Linked DNA regions of Homo sapiens: region 1 is linked to region 2. A link means that fine-mapping ties the variant in region 2 to the expression of a gene that starts in the linked region. Tissue or cell type: whole blood. Region 2 holds a variant in brackets; the other region holds the start of a gene. All regions are shown on one strand. Distances are between the middles of the regions. Region 1 holds the start of LINC02757 (long intergenic non-protein coding RNA 2757). Region 2 overlaps LRRC32 (leucine rich repeat containing 32).

The links.
Region 1: it holds the start of LINC02757, and the variant in region 2 is fine-mapped to the expression of LINC02757 in whole blood (INTERVAL, PIP above 0.99).

Annotation. Positions count from the first base shown.
Region 1 is chr11:76,628,869-76,631,880 of GRCh38, forward strand. LINC02757 (long intergenic non-protein coding RNA 2757) reads right to left here and starts at 1,554. Exons shown (of 5, transcript NR_187244.1): 1 at 1,323-1,554. RefSeq lists enhancers at 619-978, 1,437-1,731.
Region 2 is chr11:76,657,463-76,659,962 of GRCh38, forward strand. LRRC32 (leucine rich repeat containing 32) reads right to left here. Exons shown (of 3, transcript NM_001128922.2): 3 at 62-2,500. The coding sequence ends at 2,142. It overlaps LRRC32-AS1 (LRRC32 antisense RNA 1), which reads left to right. Exons shown (of 3, transcript NR_199061.1): 2 at 2,146-2,232. Among named protein-coding and RNA genes, the nearest start is that of LRRC32-AS1, 1.7 kb to the left of the region's middle. The variant G/A (reference allele first, on the strand shown) is at 1,407.

The DNA.
Region 1 (3,012 bases), 28 kb before region 2:
TGGAAGGTGGGAGGAGGCCTGGTTGGTGGGGTCTGTGGGAGGCTCTAGGTCAAATTCCTAAAAATGGATCTGCTTGATGACCAGCTTGCCAACTGATCAGGTTTTCAAATGACCAATTTGCCAAATATACCAAACTTACCAATTTACTATTCATTTTTTCCAAAGTATATAGCAATTGTATTGGATAGATTGACACTGGTTTTCATTTCATCTTCATAGTTCATTTTAAGGAATGTTTAGATGGTCAAAAGCTAAGTGTCAGGGAGTGGTTTCATTTAGTAAAGGCACTTAACATTTGGAATTGGAGAGGGACTTTCTGGGAACATCTACCAGGAATGGGGCATTCTGGGAGCTCTGTAGCAAGACAGGCCTTCAGGGACCACCTGACTCCCCAGAGCCATGTGGCCTGTGCCTGGGTTGTCCTCTGACTGGCTCTGTGTCCTGTGCCAGGCCCCTTCTCCTGTCTGGGTCGCAGTCTCCTGGCTATAAAGAGCTCAGCTTTTGGGCCTTGCTGATGTTTGATGAGACCCTGGAGCTACCTGTGACCTCAGTCTCCGAGTGTGGCCAGGGTCCAGGCCATGGGAGCCAGAGAAGCTGCTGACTCTGCTGAGGGCAGCCCAGCCCTGCTTGGAAGTCAAGGCTGTTGTGTTGGTGCCTGTATCTGAACTGTGACATTTCTGGGTCCTGTCCCCAGCCCCAGGCAGAGGGGCCTTGCTTGCTGTGTGCGGGGAGCATGGGGCTGCAGAGGGTGGGGCCCAACTAACTTTCCTTTCCTGGTAACACGCTTGCTAAGCTCATTTCCTTTTTCTGAAGGGAAATGCCATTGACATCACACCACTGGATTTTCAGTGACGCAAGATGAGAACTCGTGAGCCCTTCGCAGGCAAGAAGGGTGCACGTGTGGGCTGGGCACAGATCTGACCCGGGGCAGATTCGGAGAACCTCTGATCTGAGGCTCCTAGCCCTTGCTTTAGAGATGGGGACCCCTAGGTCAGAGAGGGGTAGAGACATGCCCTGGGTTCCACAGCCAGACAGCAGGGCTGGGGCCAGATCCCAGGCCCCTGTCTCCCAGCCCAGGGCTCTAGATGAAGGGGCCTGACTTGCCCTCTCAACCTATCTTAATAGTGGCACCAACATCCACCAAGTTGCCTAGGCCACAAACGGGTCTCACTGCACTCCTCCCTCCCAGCACCCTCCTCCTGGCAGCAGCACTCATAGCTGTCTCCTGCAGTCCATCACAGGCCACTCCCTGGCTCAGGCCACCTTGTCTTCTCCAGGACCCCAGTCCAGGAAATACCTGGCCACTGCTCAGGCCTCCCTACCTACATCCAGGCTTCTCCCTCCAGTCCATCTTCTGTTCAGCTGCCTGGGTGACTTGGCTAAAACACAGAGCCCACAGTGTCAGTCCCCAGGGCAACCCTTCCAGGGCTCCTTGGCTGGGCATCCCAGACTCTCCGTGGTGCTTGCGCCTCCTTCCAGCAGCTGCCCCTGACACGCCCCTTTGCTCCCTCGGTGCAGAAGCTGCCTGCCCTCTTCAGAGTGTGCATCCTCTCTGCATTTGCTGTTCCTGCGCCGTTTCCTCTTTGGGAACTCCTCCCTCTGCAGGCACGTTCCTGTTTTTGCTCACTCCTGAGGAAAGCTCACACGGCCCGATCTCCCTTCCCCCACCCCAGCCTTGGAGGGAACGTCTAGGTCTTCCTCCCCACCTCCTTGACAGCAGCAAAGACATTTTATTGTGGAAAATTTCAAACACACAACAAAAATAGTACAAAAACTACTGTGTATTCCTCACCCAGCTTCGACCCTCCCCGACTCAGGGCCACTCTTGTTTCATTTCTATCCCCCAACTCCTCCCCACTGGATTACTCAGAGCAAATTTAAACATCAGATAATTTTATCCACAAATACTACAAGGAGTTGGGCGCAGTGGCTCATGCTTATAAATCCCAGCAACTTGGAAGGCTGAGGTGGGCAGATGACTTGAGGCCAGGAGTTCACCACCAGCCTGAGCAACATAGCAAGGCCCTGTCTCAAAATAAATATTGCAGTCTGTATTTCTAAAAGATAAAGGCATGGCCAGAAACTATTATCCTGCCTACATTTTTAATAATAATTTTTTATTATCATAGTATATAGTGGTGTTTAAATTTCCCCAATAAACCAGGCGTGGTGGCTCACACTTGTAAGCGTGATTACTCCAGATTACTCCAAATCATGCTTCTAAGTATAATTACTCCCAGAACTTTGGCAGGCTGAGGCAGGAGGATCACTTGAGCCCTGGAGTTCAAGGCCAGCTGTCTTCCAAATAAAAAAATTCCCCATTGTCTAACAAAGATCTTTTACAGATCTTTTAAAGTTGATTTGTTCAAAATCAGGATCTACACAAGTTCCATACATTGCATTTGATCGTTTTCTCTTAAATCTCTTTCAATCTTTTCTACTTCCTCTCTCTTTTTTGGGGGGGGAGGGGGTGGTTTTTTTTTTTATTTTGAATCAGGGTCTAACTCACTCTGTCACCCACGTTGGTATGCAGTGGCATGATCTTGGCTCACTGTAGCCTCAACCTCCTGGGCTCAAGTGATCCTCCCACCTCAGCCTCCTGAGTAGCTGGGACCACAGGCATGCGCTACCATGCCTGGCTAATTTTTTGTAGTTTTTGTAGAGACAGGGTTTCGCCATGTTGCCCAGGCCGGTCTCAAACTCCTAAGCTCAAGTGATCCTCCCACCTCAGCCTCCCAAAGTGCTGGGATTACAGGTGTGAGCAACTGAGTCTGGTCTCTCCTTATTTTTTATTTTTATTTTGTCTTGAGACACTGTCTCACTCTGTTCCCCATGCTGGAGTGCAGTGGTGTGATCTCGGCTCACTGCAACCTCCACCTTCCAGGCTCAAGTGATTCAGCCACCTCAGGCTCCCAAGTATTAATAGCTGTGACTACAGGCATGTGCCACCACACTGGCTAATTTTTGTATTTTTTTTTTTTTCATGGAAGATGGGGTTTTGCCATGTTGCCC
Region 2 (2,500 bases):
AGCGGCAGGGTTCTAGTGGACGCAATGAAGCGGATTGCAAAGAGGAAGCTGGCAGCCACACTGCTTCTCCAAAATTAGTTTTTAATACATTCAGGTAGGTTATACAAAGAGTTGGTCCCGAGGCCTGGGCTGAGGCCTGGGCCCTGGGAAGTGACAGCAGCCCTGTGTAGTGTTTTCAAAGATCAGGCGTGGGGACCCACACCTTGGCCTCCAGGCCTAAGGAGGAGTGTTACGTGCAGTAGCACCCGTGGGTGTGATCCCAACCAGGACTGGGTCTGCCTGGGTGCTCCACACACCACCAGGGCCTAGCCCTGGCTCTGCCCATTGACTCTCCCTTAACTTCCTCTGGGCCTTGGTGTTCTCCTCTGTAAAATGGGGTGGAGAGAGTGGCATTTTCACTTTCTCGCACATTACTGAGCCCACATCATGAGCCAGACTGTGGGCCAAGCACAGGTAAGATGATGAAGACAGCAAAACAAGGTCTTGAGTTGGTCCCAGCACGTCCATTCTTCCCAGACAGCTCATGACTCCATGGTATGAGGGATGGGGGTCATCTGGGTGAGGCTTTTTACCTGTTTTTGTAAGAGGGAAAAAAGATCCTTGCATGATGAGGCACAGAAAGGAAGTTTGGAGCCAGCATTATCTTGTGATGTGATAGCTGAGAGAGGACATCACTCTGGTCCAACCCCCAATCTCACCCCACAAATAAGGGCTCTTTTTTCCCCCAGAGGCTCTGTATAAGCTCTCCACAAGTTTCATTCTCTTCCTAAGCCTCAGTTTCCCCATCTGTGCAATGGGGAGGTTGGATTCCATAGTCTCAAACTCCAGGCTCTGCTCAATAGAGGAAAAGGGAATGAGAGAATGCAAGAGCACAGAGAGAACAGGAGAACCCACACCAGGGTGGAAAGGAAGGGAGGAGGGAAACAGGCAGAGAAGGAGGAGAGCGCCTGCAGCTGCCTGCCTGGGAGAGAGGAGAGAGCAGGTGTGCACAGCACAGGATGCTTCCAGACCCTGCTCGGGCTATGTGGGGCCACTTCCTGTCCACTTAACGGCCTGCAGCCCCTGCAGTGGTAAAGATCAGGCCCTGGAGACAGAAGGATGAAGGTTTGAATCTCACCTATGGCATTAGTTAGCTGGGGCCCTGGAAGGAGATTTTCAGAACTTCAGTTTCCTCTTTTATAAAACGGGGATAAAATATAGAGCTGTCACATAGGGGCAGACACAAGGCTTGGATTCAAATCCACATCTGCCAAGCTGGGTGCAAAACAGAACCAGATATCTAAGGTTTTAGCTCCTGGCTCAGCAGCCAAGGTGGGGCTGCGATGGAGAAGTGGGGCTGGGCAGGGACGGTGCTTAGAGCAGCACTGGGGTCAGGGTATGCAACATGAGAGTGCCAGGAAGGGAGA[G/A]GGCAAGTCCAGAGCAGGAGACGGAATGGTCCAGTGCTGGGCTGGACCCCTTAACCAGACCCTGCTGGAGCCGCCGTGGCCCACCTAACAACACCAGATCCGAGACACACTCGTACAGCTCCAATTCTCTCTTCTGGTCCTAAGCTTTTCATTTTCAGAGAGACTGAAAGTCATTCTCAGAAGACGTGACAAACAGTCTGCTTGGAAATGTCTCAGACAAATCCTCCTGGGCTTGGCCCTCCCTCACCCTGGCACAGCCGGGGCAGGACTCACCGCACCAAACCAGCGGGGCCTGCCGAGCTCTGGAGCCCTGGGCTTTCACACCTCAGGCCCTAAGCACACTGCGTGGCGGCCACGTGGCTCTGCAGCACTCTCTCCTACCAGACTGGGAGATTCTTGAGGGCGGGAATGTATCTCATTTCCCAGCATTCCCAGTGCCCAGAGCAGGGTGTGGCACAAAATACATGCTCAGTGAAGATTTGTTGATCTGACAGGTCAACATTATTCTCGGCTGTCCCTGAAACCGCCCAACTTCTGGCTTCCACAGCTGGACCCAAAGTGCAGCCCGGGAAGGGGGTCACCCACTGATGCAGCAGGCGGCAGAGAAAGGTGTCCTGGGCTGTAATTTGGAGACCAGAGTTCTGGGATCCCGGATCACTGTGTGACCTTGAGTCAGTCCTCACTCTTCTCTGTACCTCAGGCTCCCCCACTGACCTAGAGTGTCTCCCGGCTTCTTTAGGCTTTATACTGTTGGTTAAACTTCTGCCGGCGGACGCAGCAGCAGGCGGCCAGCGTGGTGAGGAGGATGGCAGAGACCAGTATGAAGGTGAGGATGATGATGAGGTTGATGTTCTTCAGTCCCCCCTTCTCACAGTCCTCGGGACGCACGTGGCTCAGGGACACCTCCTCCTGGGAGCTGAAGCGGCAGATCAGGTCCTGGGTGGCGTCCACGTCCACACGGCCCTGGTGCAGCTGGGCTGCCAGCCAGCCATTGCCGCAGCAGCTGAGTGGATTCCCCTGCAGGTAGAGGCGCCGGAGGCTGGTCTCCAGGCCACCCATGGCACTGCCTGGCAGGAGGCTGAAGCTGTTGTTTC